Linked DNA regions of Homo sapiens. The protein of the gene in region 2 interacts with the protein of the main gene of each other region in a biochemical or structural test. Each region holds a gene or a part of one and is shown on either strand. Other genes may lie near its edges.

The links. The genes of interacting proteins can lie anywhere in the genome.
Region 1: the proteins of TJP3 (region 2) and AMOTL1 interact in a test that uses a peptide from one of them, tested with the Homo sapiens proteins (one large-scale study listed by IntAct).

Annotation. Positions count from the first base shown.
Region 1 is NC_000011.10:94,865,856-94,869,355, reverse strand, and holds part of AMOTL1 (angiomotin-like protein 1), read right to left. Parts: intron 3,415-3,500; coding exon 3,188-3,414; intron 159-3,187; coding exon 1-158. UniProt on the Homo sapiens protein: Inhibits the Wnt/beta-catenin signaling pathway, probably by recruiting CTNNB1 to recycling endosomes and hence preventing its translocation to the nucleus.
Region 2 is NC_000019.10:3,706,699-3,710,641, reverse strand, and holds the start of TJP3 (tight junction protein ZO-3), read right to left. Parts: upstream 2,259-3,943; 5' UTR 2,081-2,258; intron 1-2,080. UniProt on the Homo sapiens protein: TJP1, TJP2, and TJP3 are closely related scaffolding proteins that link tight junction (TJ) transmembrane proteins such as claudins, junctional adhesion molecules, and occludin to the actin cytoskeleton.

The sequences.
Region 1 (3,500 bases), on a different chromosome or scaffold from region 2:
ACTCTTGTCAGTCTGTGTGCTGCTGTCCTTGCTGCCTGTCTTGGCGTGGGCACTGCTGGCTGCCGTAGTGGAGGCTATGGAGGACAGTGCTGAGGTGGGTGGGGGTGGCAGCAGTGGGGCAGAGGCATGCTCATGGTGCTCCTTCCCCAGCAGCAATCCTGAGGGCAGAGAACAGATTTTTCAACATTCTTTTTTTCCTTTTTTTTTTTTTAAATCTAGTCTTGCAGATCTGTTCCTTGTTGATTGATGATTGCTTCATTCATTCATTGATTCATTCCCCAAGCATTTAATAAACACTTATTACAAGGCTGATAAAATAACAAACACTGAGAGAATAAAAAATGGAAGACCTAGTCCCCTTCCTAAAAAATTGTAGGTTTTTTTTGTGTGTTTTTTTTGTTTTTTTTTTTTGGAGTGGAGAAGTAGTTGTCAAGTAAACTGATTATAACTTAATATATAAACTGTAGGATACAAATAAATTATTCACAGGGTGGTATGGACGAACAGAGAAGTGCCTAATTGCCAGCAGGAGGGGTAGGGAGGTTCCCACAAGGCTTTCCAGAGACCATGCTTGCTGTTACCAACGTGGCCCAGAAGGGCTGGCCTGAAGCGTGGCAGTGTGCTTAAGAAAAACTACAAGGCTTCCCCGGTCCTAGACATGTTCCCATTGGCTTGCTGCTCTTCTGAATAGTTCACAATTCCACCCCACTCCTTGTAATGGATGATGGTCCCCCACAGGCTTGGATTCAAAGATAAACATGCTACCTGCACATTTCTGCGGTGGAACTGTAGCCTCCCAGAAGCAGAAAGCCAGCCAGCCTCCTAGGAAAGGCCACTTAGCCCTCTCCTTACCCCCTTCCTCAAGAGTAGTGAGGCTGGGGTGGGGAAGAGGGGATGCTGGCTATGGAAATGGGAGGCGTGGTGTGCAGAGGTGTCCATTTTCCTCAGAGCCTTCCTGGAAAGCTGGGTGGGAGGATAACTTTTTATTTTTAAATACAGCACACACGCGGGAAAGTGCCAGCACCCTAGAATGCTAGCCTATAGAAAAGGCGGTAAGCGCAATCAAGTATTTGTTCTCTTATCTGGTTAGATAGCCAGCAATTCATAAAGTATCCTCGCCAGAGCTGTTTTAAGGTGCCCATTTAGAACTCAGGGCAGTTCAGTTTGTCGAGAGCAGTGCTTTTCAAAATGCAATGTGCATAACAATGACTTGGCTATACCGTTAAAAGGAAGACCTGATCCAGCAGGCAGGGCCTGGGATTCTGTATTTCTAAGAAGCTCCCAGATGGTGCTGGTGCCACTGGTCCACAGACCACGCTGAGCAGCAAAGGCCTTCACCTGCGCTTCCCACATCATCTCACTTCATACTGCATGTCATTCCTGCGAGACAGGCCTTATCCTGTCTTACGGAGAAGGAAATGGAAGCTCACAAAAACTAACATCTCACAGCTAAGAAGCAGCAGAAATGGGACTCAAACCCAACTGTGCCTGACTTGGAGTCCAACCTATGTTCTTTCCACTTCATCGCCCAGCCTGTGGAAACTCCAGAGTCTGCAGGATGTCCTCGTAGGGAGTGACAGGCTGAATAAGTCACTAGCCAGCCATAGCTCCTGGGATACCCTGGGCAATTGGGAAGGTATATGCTGTCACCTCCACCTCCTTCCAGAGCCTATCAGGCAAGCAATGGTGACAACATGTGGGGAACTGTGCAGTCACCCATGAACCTGCCTCAGCCCCTTGGAGAGTCCCTGTGTTTGTGACACGTGGACACCAATGACAACAATGAGGAGGAATATCAGTGCAGGGAACACAGCAGCTCTTCCTTCAAACAAGTCCTCCGGCTCCCAGGCCTGGTTTAGACATGCCAGGTCCTGGGGCATACGGGCACAGACACCAGAGATGCCTGCCTGGCTGCACGTCACAAACAGGGGACTCCCAGGGAGGTTGCTACCAGAGCTGAGCAAATTTTCAAACTCCTTGACCAGGCCTGGCTCAGCACTGCCTCCCAGCTCTCTAGCTGGGGTGGGAGCTAAATGTCCTTGGGACAGTCTTTGATGATCTCAGCTGCTGTCCACACACGTCTTCTTTGAAGTGCATTTCCTTTGGGGGCAGGGGCTGCTGAAGCCACCAGTGGAGGGACTTCAAACACAGATTCTGGTTGGGAGCCTTTGATCCCCCCAACTCTGTCGGGTTCATATGGAAGCTCTTATCCCCTCTGGCCCAGAGCAGCCAGTCTCCTTTGGGGTCTTATGCTGAGGACCACTGGCTCTCAGCTGCACAGAGAAACAAAAACACGATCTGATGTGGGGAAATGCATCAAAGAAGGGCCAGACCCCTGGAGAGGCCAGAGTGCAGGGGAAGGATGTGGAGGACCTGTGTCTGAGCACGCTGCCTGCTTCCCCTCCAGCTTGGCTAGCCCAGCCAGCCAACAAGCCTGCCTGCCCCCAAGAAACCTACTCCTGGCTAAGACCACACTTAGGGAATTCTGCCCATGCAACAACAATACAGCAAAAACTTACCACCCCTACCTTATGCGAGAGAGCACTTCTTCCAATGTGCTCTCCCCATTATCCCATTCTTCCCTCCCACGCCCCATGGGGTAAAGCAGGCAGACACTGTCCTCCCCCCATTATCCCATTCTTCCCTCCCACGCCCCATGGGGTAAAGCAGGCAGACACTCTCCTCCCACCATTATCCCATTCTTCCCTCCCACGCCCCATGGGGTAAAGCAGGCAGACACTCTCCTCCCCCCATTATCCCATTATTCCCTCCCACTCCCCATGGGGTAAAGCAGGCAGACACTGTCCTCCCTTTCCAGACGTGGAAGCAGAGGTGGAGCCGTCATACAACTGGTCTAGAGCAGAGCCAAGTTCAGAGGCGTGATGTCTCTAGGCTTTTCTATGAGAGCCTTTTGTGTTATAAGGGTCACCTCAACTTACAACAATAATAGATAATTCTGATCTGAGTCAACCCATGGCTAAGAGCTACTCCAGTGGTGCAGTCTTTAGAATTTACACAATGCTTCCACATATCTATAACTGAAGTATGACTGATTTCCCTCCCCACTTCACAGATGAGTAAACTGAGACCAGGAACTATTCAGGGACATTTCCGTGTCCCATGAGTGGCAGAGAAGCTGTCTGGTCTTGCTTTTCCAATCATGGTCTGACAGAGGTGTGGGGCTCACCTATGCTCCCCTTCCAGGTCTTCTCTTCCTTCTTTTCCTCAGCCAGCTGGCTGCTGGTAAGAGAGGTCTGGCGAGAGTGTGTCCCAGTAGCTGCTGCTATGGATGGAACGGAGCGGGCAGGACGTAGGCTGGAGGAGTCTGTCTTCCCGGCATCTTTACGAGATCGCTGCTGCAGGACCTTAATCATAGCATCTTTCTCTATGATTTTGGCATGGAGATTTTTAATACTGTAAAACAAAACAAAACAGTCTCCATAAAAAGCCACTTGGCTAGAAAAACTTGAAACATTTATCTCAGGCTGTCCCAAAGACTT
Region 2 (3,943 bases):
TTCCAAAGGGTGTCAGGTTCCACCCTGAGCAAACACAGCTCCCCTGGCCCCTGGCCAGCCCTAAAGAGGAAGAACAAGTACCCATACTCCCTGCCCTGGACTTTCCCCGGGACTCAGGGCCACGAGGAAGCACCAAGCCAGGGGGCAGGACTTTCTCGAGATGCTGAGCCTGAGGCATCAGCTGGGGGCAGGGCCAGCCTCCAGAGCACCACCCCCGCCACCAGCTCCCTGTCCTCTGCGTCTTGACTCTTGGCCGCCTGACATTTCTACTTGGCTGTGCGGCCCGGGGTAAGCGGCTGTCCTTCTCTGAGCCAGGGTTCATCCTCTACAAACCAGGAAGCTGATGAGACCAGACTCCGATTCGGACCGGGATAGCTCGTCTTGACCCCAGAATGACCGAGAATCTGTTACCCGCTTTATTACATCCGGCACTCAACAGCCCTGTGCCTTGGTGACTCCATATCCCCCCACCCCTTTTTTTTTTTTTTTTTTTGAGACAGAGTCTCACTCTGTTGTCCAGGCTGGAGTGCAGTGGCACAATCTCGGCTCACTGCAACCTCCACCTCCTGGGTTCAAGCAATTCTCCTGCCTCAGCCTCCGGAGTAGCTGGGATTACAAGTGCTTGCCACCATATTCGGCTCATTTTTTGTATTTTTAGTAGAGACAGGGTTCCACCATGTTGGCCAGGCTGGTCTCGAACTCCTGACCTTGTGATCCACTCGCCTCGACCTCCCAAAGTGCTGGGATTACAGGCGTGAGCCACCGCGCCCGGCCCTCAATATCCCCATTTTACAGAGCAGGAAACAGAGGCCCGGAGAGAAGGGAGGTGTGGAAGCCAGATCTAACTGAGTCCACGGGTTTGCTCTCAAAACCCAGGCAAGGTGGGATCCATGTCGCCCACCCCCACGGACTCCCGAATCTCAAGCAAGCCTGCTCCCTGGGAGCTCTGCAGCCACACAGCCACAAGGTGACCCCAAATGCCGGGCCGCTCTGTCCCCCACTATGCGATCATCCATGCCTCCTCGGCCCCGGGGGACCCTCTTGGTTCTGGAGAGAGACTTGAGATGCAATCGGACACTTGGCTCACGAGGAAGCTCCCTTGGTCTTCCCATTTGGGAGCAAATGACCCAGAAAAACACTTTTGCTGCCGACCCCTCCCCTCTCTGGCTCTGAGCGCTCCTTCCTCCTTCCCCTCTGCCCCATCCCACAGAGATTTTGCTCGGAGGAGTAAAGATTAGAAAAAGAAGTCTGGGCGCAGTGGCTTGCGCCTGTAATCCCAGCACTTTGGGAGGCCGAGGGGGTTGGATCACCTGAGGTCAGGAGTTCGAGACCAGCCTGGCCAACATGGTGAAACCCCATCTCTACTAAAAATACAAAAATTAGCTGGGCATAGTGGTGGGCGCTTGTAATCCCAGCTACTCGGGAGGCAGAGGTGGAGGCAGAGGTTGCAGTGAGCCAAGATCGCACCACTGCACTCCAGCCTGGGCAACAAGAGCAAAACTCCGTCTCAAAAAAAAAATTAGCAAAAGAAAGGCCACCCCAATCCCTCCCTGCAAAGCTCCTGGAGGTTCCAGCGGTGAGAACAGGGTGAGGGGTTGGGGGGCGGGAGACGCAGTTGTTTCAAAACTTGGGAGCCTTTTAAGAAGTTCCAGGAGGCTCAGAGATGAGTGAGGTCGCAGCCTTTCCCACCTGTCACCTCCTAGCCTCGGGCTGCAGGAGGTAAACCCAGGCTCCGTCTGGACTGATATCCCCTCCCCTCCTCAGTTAGGGGGATCAGAGACCAACCTGTGCCCCTTTGCCGCCTCCCCGGTCCCTGCGCCACCTAGGTAACAATGACCCTTTTAAGTTTCCAGCTCAGCGTCCTGGGCAGGCCGCCAGGTGCAGTAACTGCCGGTCAGATAATCCCTACGAAACTATGTCAGATGCCCACGCAGGAGTGTCAGTTTCCTGCTTTCCGAGGAGCCGGGGAGACAGCTCGTGGTGGGGGAGGTTGGGGGGGAGTCTAAGGACCCTCAGCTGGGGAAGGCCAGCTCAGACAATGCACACTGGGTGGAAAAGCACAGTGGGGCGGGGGACTTACCTGTCTAGGAGGCTGGGTGGCCTCTGGGCAGGCAGCAGGTGCCAGGGCCCGGGTGCCTGCCTGGCACGGGTGGTGGGGAGGGAACCCGAGGCTTGTAGCTCTGGCCTCCCCACCTGTTTGACCAACTTTTCCTCTCTTGTGGTGGCAACAGGGAGGCAGGTCCCCTGCCAGTGGAACTGACGACCACAGACACAGGGAGACGGACCAGGGTGAGGGGCGGGCCAGCAGGAGGACTGGGTGTGTGGCTCTGTCGCAAGGTGCCCTCACGTGGGAGCAACTGGCCTTAACCCCTGCTTGCCCAGAGGTGAGCTTGCTCCTGCCTGTGCCCTCACCGCCGAGGCCCTGGTATCAAGCGTCCGCACATGGTAGGTGCTTAGGAAACCCTCGTTGGCTACATTCAGACATGAATGGACCGCACTCCCGGAGTCCCCCTCCCTCCTGCTTCTTGCATCTGGAGCTGCCCAGTCTCTGTGCTTGCTGAGCCTCCTGCCAGGCACGCCGGCCCATCAGGCTGTGGCTTGGCGCACTCCCTTCCCCACGCAGATCTGTGCGCAGTCTGCCTCTCTGCTACGAAGTGACTGGGTTCCTACGTACAGAAGCTTCTGCCACTTCCCCGCTGTGTGGCTTTGGGCAAATTACAGGGGCTTCTTGCTGTCCTCATCTAAAAAACAAGAAAGGGTCAGGTGTGGTGGCTCACACCTGTAATTCCAGCACTTTGGGAGGCCGAGGTGGGAGGATCACTTGAGCCTGGGAATTTGAGACCAGCCTGGGTAACACGGTGAAACCCATCTCTAGAAAAATTTTTATATATCTTTTGTTTGTTGTTTGTTTTGAGATGGAGTCTCCCTCTGTCACCCAGGCTGGAGTGCAGTGGCGCGATCTCGGCTCACTGCAACCTCCGCCTCCTGGGTTCAAGTGATTCTTCTGCCTCAGCCTCCCAAGTAGCTGGGATTACAGGCGTGCACCACCACGCCCAGCTAATTTTTTTTTTTTTTTTCAGTAGAGACGGGGTTTTCCTATGTTGGCCAGGCTGGTCTCAAACTCCTGACCTCAAGTGATCTGCCCGCCTCGGCCTCCCAAAGTGTTGGGATTACAGGCGTGAGCCACCGAGCCTGGCCTAGAAAAGTTTTTTTGTTGTTGCTGCTGGCTGTTGTTGGTTTTGTTTTGTTTTTTGTTTTTATTTTATTTTTTTTTTATTTTTTTGAGACAGAGTCTTGCTATGTTGCCCAGGCTGGAGTGCAATGGCTTGATCTCGGCCCACTGCAACCTTTGCCTCCCGGTTTCAAGTGATTCTCCTGCCTCAGCCTCCCGAGTAGCTGGGATTGCATTACAGGCACCAGCCATCATGCCCAGCTAATTTTTGTATTTTTGTAGAGACGGAGTTTCACCATATTGGCCAAGCTGGTCTTGAACTCCTGGCCTCAGGTGATCCGCCTGCCTTGGCCTCTCAAAGTGCTGAGATTACAGGCGTGAGCCACCACGCCCAGCCCAGAAAACTTTTTTAAAAATTAGCCAGATGTGGTGGTACACACCTGTAGTCCCAGAAACTCAGGAGGCTGAGGTGGGAGGATCAATTGACCCTGGGAGGTTGAGGCTGCAGAGAGCTATGACTGTGCCACTGCACTCCAACCTGGGTGACAGAGCAAGATCCTATCTCAATAAAATAAAATTAACCAGGAAGGGTTGGGCATGATGGCTCACACCTATAATCTCAGTACTTTGGAGGCCAAGGTGGCAGGATCACTTGAGGCCAGGAATTCGAGACCAGTCTGGGCAACATAGTGAGACACCCCCCCATCTTTACCAGTACATTAAAATTAAAATTTAAAAAATTAAGTCTGGGCTCAATGGCTCACCCCTGTA